Linked DNA regions of Homo sapiens. The protein of the gene in region 1 purifies or fractionates together with the protein of each later gene. This does not show direct contact. Each region holds a gene or a part of one and is shown in the gene's direction. Other genes may lie near its edges.

Region 1 (3,914 bases):
AAAGATTTTTAAAATGTATGGGATGATGGCTGGGAACGGTGGCTCACCCCTGAAATCCCAGCACTTTGAGAGGCCGAGGCGGGCAGATAACCTGAGGTCAGAAGCTCAAGACCAGCCTGGCCAACATGATGAAACTCCATCTCTACTAAAAATACAAAAACTAGCCAAGTGCAGTGACACATACCTGTAGTCTCAGCTACTCGGGAGGCTGAGGCAGGAGGATCGCTTGAACCCAGGAGGTGGAGGTTCAGTGAGCCGAGATTGTGCCACTGCATTCCAGCCTGGGCAATAGAGTGAGACCCTGTCTCAATAAATAAATAAATAAATAATATAATAAAATAAAATGGATGAGATGAATATGAAATTATGAAATGCAATTTTTAATTCATCTTATTTACTAAATAATTTTGCAAATTCGAGAAGAATATTATGAGAAAGAAAGGAATGGGGAAAGAGTCAATTAGTTGGCTGATTTCACTAGCTAAAGAAGTTGAACAGACATAAAAATTGTGTAGTTAACTGAAGTCTCCCATATATTTTCAGCCAGGACATGAAAAGCATAATGAATTTATTTTCTATTGTTAAGTAGTTCAGAATTGTCTTTTCTGGCAGTATTATTTCTCTGTGTGTGGATGGTAGAACAGGATGGACAGAAGTATTAAATGAGAGATTGGAAGTGGAGGGACAGTCCTTCAGTTTAAACACTATCTTTTGAGTCTTATGTAAATTTATATTTCTTTTAAAATTTGATATTTATATTTAATTTTATATTCTTTTTTCCACTTGTATAATATCCACATTGGGAAATTCTCTGCTGAAGATTTGCATATTTGAGGAGCAAAGAGTGGGATTTGGAATATAGGGAGGGTTGAAGCTAAGTTTTTACTCTCTGTATATATTTGATTAGTGTACATTTTTAAAAATGAGAAGGCATGTAAAATTTATATTTTGCCGGGTGTGGTGGCTCACGCCTTTAATCCCAGCACACTGGGAGGCCGAGGTGGGTGGATCACCTGAGGTGAAGAGTTTGAGGCCAGCCTGACCAATATGGTGAAACCTCGTCTCTACTAAAATTACAAAAATGAGCCAGGTGTAGTGGCGTGCGCCTGTAGTCTCAGCTACTCGGGAGGCTGAGGCAGGAGATCACTTGAACCTGGGAGGCGGAGGTCACAGTGAGCCGAGATTGCACCACTGCACTCCAACCTGGGCAACAGAGCGAGACTTCATCTCAAAAAAAAAAAAAAAAATTATATTTTACACACATATTTTAGGAGGATTTCTTTGCAGTTTAAAGTTTTAAGACGTGGAGCGGTTTATATATACATATATATTTTGTTTTCACATATATATTTTAAAGGATTATTAAAAAACAAGCTTGGCTTTGGCTTTTATGTAAATTATTTAGATTGAATTTTGTAGCTAAAATTACATTGGTGAAAGCTAAGTCTGCACGTATTACTTTGAAAGCCTCTTTTAGCTTATGTCAGTTTATTGAACAGAATTATTATAAACTATATTATATTTTACATACATAAATAGAAAACCTGGCAACTTACTAATGTAACTTTTAAGTATCAGGTTTTGGGGGCTATCTCTTCCTTTTACTAAGGTTAGCTTTTACTAATTTTCTATCCTGAATTTAAAATTTTTTTTTTTTACTTACAGTGGTTGGTTCAGCACGTGCACGGCCCAGTCAATTTCCTGAACAGTCTTCCTCTGCACAACAGAATGGTAGTGTTTCAGATATATCTCCAGTTCAAGCTGCAAAAAAGGAATTTGGACCCCCTTGTATGTAAATTATGTATCAAGGATTTAGTCATTTTAGGCATACATGTATTCTCTCTTGGTCATCCTTTTAAGTCCTCAAAGAGTAAACACTCTAAATACAAGCTTGATTGCAGATTTCATTTTACCACTGTGGAAAATTTAACTTCTTCTTATTAGTCTGTTAATTGGGTTTTTTAAAGTATATTTTGGAGCAAAAATTTTTTTGTGAAATTATAGCAATGTTTCAGTTTGAGTTTAAAATTCTGGGCAGATGATAATTTGTCAGATGTTACAGAAGAATGTGTTGGGCTCCTTGATTCTTTGAATTAAAAAGTCTGTGTTTCTAAACCAAGAGATGACATGTATCAATATGTTTGAGTCATTTTTCTGGACTCTCATCTGTACATTGTCCTATTTTAGTTTTGGTAAAGCAGCTCATTAAGTAAAGCTCACGTAGTTGTTATAGGCATGCTTTGTCACTGTGTACCTTTTATGTGTGTGTGGTGAAGTTATACATAAAAAAAGTTTAATATTAGTACTCTAAAAAAGAAAACTATACTTCTACAGCTCATCTTTTCTTTTCAGCACGTAGAAAATCTAATTGTGTGAAAGAAGTAGAAAAACTGCAAGAAAAACGAGAGAAAAGGAGATTGCAACAGCAAGAACTTAGAGAAAAAAGAGCCCAGGTTCGTAACATAAACATATATTTTGTTTATGTACCAACCAGAGATTAGATTATATCAGTGAAGGTGATTGATGTGAACAAAATAATTAAGGCATTTTTTTTGAAGAATTTTAAGAATTCCTTAAATTGATATTGAGGAATAATATAAACTCTTGTGCAAATAAGTTACCGTAACACATTTTTACTGCATTGTTCTTTTCATGTTTTATTGGTATGTGTTAACGCTAAAATTTGTTCCATTAAGAAAAAGCCATTGTGTTACAGAATTCTAATGTGTATGGTGTAACATTTAAGAATTTTTATTTTAAAAAGACCTAAAAATACATTGGGAAAAATACCCAGTTAAAGTGCATGATTAAACTATAAATTTTATTATTGTTTTTCTATGGTTAGTAAGTTCACATGTCTTAGTGAAAGGGGGGAAATTCCTTGGATTTTCATTTATGCCACATATGAAGAGTGGATCTCTATTGTGTCCCCCTCAGGGTCCCTTCAGATGGTAGCAAGACTGTTTAATAGCAGTGGGAAAATTGCATAGAAAACTGGTCTTTTACTCTTCTACAGGTCTTTACATATTAGACATTTTGTTATTATACATAACTGCACCATTGTGCTTGTATGGCATCTATTACATTTTCAGAACTACTTTTCTCTAATAAAACATCAAGATTATTTATTTAATAGTATGTTCAAATGCCCTTAATCATGTTAAACTACCAGTTCAGATGTTGTGTTGTGGAATTGTGGACCTAGTATTATATCCAACCTGAATGAATCAGCTTTTATCTGAAAGTGACCTGAGAATGACCAGTTGGGTTTTGAAATGAATAATAAAACATATTATCTACTAATACTTAGCATAGATGCCACCTGGTGTTTCCTGTGGGTACTTCATAATACTTACACATCTCTCTGTGATCTCTTAATTCTCACTTCACAGTCTGCTTCTCAGTTGACATAGGTGGTATTATTTCCTAGAAGAAGGTTAATTGAAAGTAAGTTTCAGTAACAGTTTGTAATTTAGTTGCATTCAAAACAAATCTGAATATGATGTATAAAAAAATGTGACTTCTTAGAATGATTAATAATTTATTGTTCAAGGCTAGGAAAGACTGTTGACTATTGCTATTTGTATCTTAATCTGAATTTCTGTTTTGAAGCCAAATAAATTGTAGTTGGCATTCAAAAATTTGAATTTTAAAGTTTTTTTAAAATGATCTTGGCTTCTGATTCCTTTAAGTTCTATGTTCTGTTGATTTGGGGCAGTTTTGTCATTACTTAGTATTTTTTAGAAGGTCAGCAAAAATAGAAAATGAAGACAAATGAATCTGTATTTATACTTTGCTGAAACACTGGATTAAATTAGAAGATGAATCTGATTAAATGAATTTTCCTAGAATTTCAGCTTTTCTAGAGTTATTTGCCAGTGGTAACATGAGCATTATTTCTCTGTTGCTGCATT
Region 2 (3,914 bases), on another chromosome or scaffold:
CTCCAGAGGGTGGGGAGGTTGTAGCAGGAGTAGGGGCCTGAACGCCTGTGTCTATGCCCCTTCCACTGGGCTCAACCTTCAACCCAGTGTGGAAAGTGGGGCATGGGCCGCCCACCTCCAAGGTCTACCCAGCCTCAAAGGTCCGGCTCGGGTCTGCTCCTCCGCCTGTAGGCCGGGAAGTCACTTGGCCTGCAGGGAGCACTGCGGGTAGGGAGGCCGAGGAATGGACCAGGCCCACAGCAGGTGCCTGTGGGGCTCCAAGGGGCCAGGCTCCCCGCAGCTCTCCTGGGGCCAGGAGGGGAGCAGGGACCTGGCTGGGTGTCTGATGCCCGTCGCACAGCCAGAGCCCTTAAAGCTGCTGGAGCCTTGCAGCGGGGCCTTTGCGGGGAGGGGGTGTAGCTGCGGTGGGTGGCACGGGGGTCTCCTAGGTACTGGGCAGAGGCCCTCGAGGTGGTAGCGCCGGTGGGAAAGGTAGGGATGGGAGGCGGGGGTGGGCGGGCCTCAGGTTCAGGGAGCTTCTCAGATCTGAGGCGCCCATGCCCCTCTCCCACCTGTGGGCCTCTCCAGCCCGAGTCCCTGAAGCAGCTCTGGAGGGAATTTCTTTTCTGGAGGAGGCGGGAGTGAGAAACGGGAGCAGGGTGAGGGTTCCCAAGTGCACATCGGCCCGTCCGCTGCTGGGTGGTGTCCACGGGGGCAGGGCTGGGCTGGGGGAGGCCAGGGTCCTGGGCCGGCACACCCTCCTTCCGGCTGCCTGTGTCCCTCCCTCCAGCTGCCTGTGTCCATCCCTCCGGCCGCCTGTGTCCCTCCCTCCGGCCCCTAAGCGCCAACTCATCTTCAGTTCAGGGACCTCCGTCAGGCTCCCTCACCCCAGCACTCAGCAGGAGGCTGCCGGCCTGGGTGTCCAGGGGATGGTGCGGGTGTCCAGCAGACAGTACAGGGGTTTGGGGGATGGTACAGGTGTCTGGGGGATGGCGTGGGTGTCCAGCAGATGGCGCAGGGGTTTGGGGGATGGCACAGGTGTCTGGGGGACAATGCGGGGGTTTGGGGGATGGCGTGGGTTCCAGGGGATGGTGCAGGGGCTTGGGGGATGGTGTGGGTTCCAGGGGACGGTGTGGGGGTTTGGGGATGGCGCGGGTTCCAGGGGACGGTGTGGGGGTTTGGGGATGGCGCGGGTTCCAGGGGATGGTGTGGGGGTTTGGGGATGGCGTGGGTTCCAGGGGACGGTGCGGGGGTTTGGGGATGGCGTGGGTTCCAGGGGACGGTGCGGGGGCTTGGGGGATGGTGTGGGTTCCAGGGGACGGTGTGGGGGTTTGGGGATGGCGTGGGTTCCAGGGGATGGTGCAGGGGCTTGGGGGATGGCGTGGGTTCCAGGGGATGGTGCGGGGGCTTGGGGGATGGTGTGGGTTCCAGGGGACGGTGTGGGGGTTTGGGGATGGCGCGGGTTCCAGGGGATGGTGTGGGGGTTTGGGGATGGCGTGGGTTCCAGGGGACGGTGTGGGGGTTTGGGGATGGCGCGGGTTCCAGGGGACGGGGCGGGGGCTTGGGGGATGGTGTGGGTTCCAGGGGACGGTGTGGGGGTTTGGGGATGGCGTGGGTTCCAGGGGACGGTGTGGGGGTTTGGGGATGGCGCGGGTTCCAGGGGACGGTGTGGGGGTTTGGGGATGGCGCGGGTTCCAGGGGACGGGGCGGGGGCTTGGGGGATGGTGTGGGTTCCAGGGGACGGGGCGGGGATTTGGGGGATGGCGTGGGTTCCAGGGGACGGTGTGGGGGTTTGGGGATGGCGCGGGTTCCAGGGGACGGGGCGGGGATTTGGGGGATGGTGTGGGTTCCAGGGGACGGTGTGGGGGTTTGGGGATGGCGCGGGTTCCAGGGGACGGGGCGGGGATTTGGGGGATGGCGTGGGTTCCAGGGGACGGTGCCTCATCCTCCAGTCTCTGTCTCTGCCTTCCCATGGCCACCTCCATGTGACTGTGTTCAAATTCCCCACCTCGTATAAGGACCCTTGTCACTGCGATTAAGGACCCCCTACTCCAGGGTGGCCTCATCTTAACTCATTATATCTGCAAAGACCCTATTTCTAGAAAAATTGCAGTCACAGGTACTGGGAGTCAGGACTTGAACCTGTCTTTTGTGGGGACACAATTCACCCATAATAGATGGTCACCCGCTCAGCTGGCTGCTGTGATTTTGGGGGGCTGGACGAGCAGGCCTTCTGTCTAGGAAATCAAACCTTTCTTGTATAATGGGAATAAACTAATTAAAATGCACACAAAGATCTCGTTCACATTAGCAAAAAGAACTCTCTCCAGATATCTAGGAGAAAACCCAGGAAAACACGTGTGAGCTCTTTACGGGGAAGACGGGAAGGCCTGAGAGACGTGTGTGCGTGGAGAGGGTGTCGGGTCCACAGAGGGGAAGACCCAGTGCGTGTGCACGTTGGCCCCATGAATCCGCAGCTTCATGCAGTGGTAGGTCAGTTTCATGGTGGCAAGATTCACCTTCAGACGCCACAAGGTCCTGGGGAAGAAGAGGTCCTGTCTCCCGACAAGGGCGGGAAGCAGTCCCAGGAGCCACCAGAGGCCTTGTCTTGCTGCTGACTGGCAGAAATGGCCAGGTTGGCCACGCCTGACTCAGACCAGGCTCGCCCCAGGGCTGGGTGGGAGTCAGTGTCCCTGAGCAGTGAGCCCTGAGCAGCACTGTGGGTCTCAAAGCATGGAAGGAGTGGGTGCTGGAGAGGCAAGCCAGCCAGCCCACGCCTGGGAGCCCACCCAGGGGACAGCCACAGGTAGCTGCAAATAATCTTGTCCGGGTGGAGACCCAGGCATTCCCACATGGCCACGGGGAAGAGTGGGGGTTGGGAGGCCATGGTGAGAGGGAGGGACACGTGAGGATCATGTGGGCAGGACCCCAACACCACAAGGGTGGGGTGGGCTGAGGCATGAAACTGGATCTCCCTAGAGTGAAATGTAAGCTCCAGCACGCTGGCACCACTGACGACACAGGAGCCATCAAAGTCCAGAAGGGGCCCCGCTGGGCACGCCCCACTCTTTCGCCATGGCTGGTGCTGGGCAGGGCCGCGGGGCTGCAGTCTGGGTGCAAGGCTCAGAGTCATTTCTCTGTGGATAGGGAGGGCACGGGTGTGCGTTCGCTTCGAGAACCATTCCCAAAGTCAGACCGCAGCCTCTGCACCAACCATCGGGGGCCAGTGGCCGCCCCCAGAGCCTCAGGGACCCTGTCCTTTGAGCCCACGCCTAAACCCACATGGGAATGATTTGGAGGCGTGGGTGAGTTGGATGGGAAAAAAATTGGGAGGGGCAAGGGGGGGATCCAGAATGAAATCCAGAAGCGCAGAAGGAAGGCTGTGAGGAGCAGTGGGCCGCCTCCTGCAGGGCTCCCGGAGCCCCTACTTGTCCAGGCTGCCTGGTGAGACCCTGGCTTCTGGTGTCCTTGGCAGGTGCCAGCCTCCCCCGCTGACCCCCATCACGAGTCAGCAGCTTACCCCACCGACCACGTCCTTCTGCATTGACTGCCTCCTGTCCTGCTCTGGCCAGGCCTGTGTTCACACTAGTTCTGTCCAGCCCCTCCCTGTGAGGCCAGCTCCAGCCCCAGCGCATGGTGACCATCCCGTTACCCATGGGCAGGATGCACTCCTCTCAGTGGCTGGCGAGGCGCAGCCTGGTGCGGGCGCCACGGGGTCGGGCTGTGATCGCCTGTGGCCTCCCTGCAGGGCTGTGACTCCCTGACGCAGATCCAGTGCGGCCAGCTGCAGAGCCGCAGGGCCCAGATTCACCAGCAGATTGACAAGGAGCTGCAGATGCGGACGGGCGCTGAGAACCTCTACAGGTCAGTGCTTGAGACTGCCCGGCCCCGGGAGCAGGGCCCACCTGGGTGAGGGGGGCAGGACAGCCACGCAG

The links.
Region 2: the proteins of KIF2A (region 1) and RHPN1 purify together in Homo sapiens (affinity purification with mass spectrometry; 2 studies listed by BioGRID and IntAct, with this or other methods). This does not show direct contact.

The regions. Positions count from the first base shown.
Region 1 is NC_000005.10:62,350,923-62,354,836, forward strand, and holds part of KIF2A (kinesin-like protein KIF2A), read left to right. Parts: intron 1-1,665; coding exon 1,666-1,788; intron 1,789-2,352; coding exon 2,353-2,453; intron 2,454-3,914. UniProt on the Homo sapiens protein: Plus end-directed microtubule-dependent motor required for normal brain development. May regulate microtubule dynamics during axonal growth. Required for normal progression through mitosis. Required for normal congress of chromosomes at the metaphase plate.
Region 2 is NC_000008.11:143,371,826-143,375,739, forward strand, and holds part of RHPN1 (rhophilin-1), read left to right. Parts: intron 1-1,906; exon of another isoform or gene 1,907-2,309; coding exon of another isoform or gene 2,310-2,468; exon of another isoform or gene 2,469-2,472; intron 2,473-3,727; coding exon 3,728-3,843; intron 3,844-3,914. UniProt on the Homo sapiens protein: Has no enzymatic activity. May serve as a target for Rho, and interact with some cytoskeletal component upon Rho binding or relay a Rho signal to other molecules.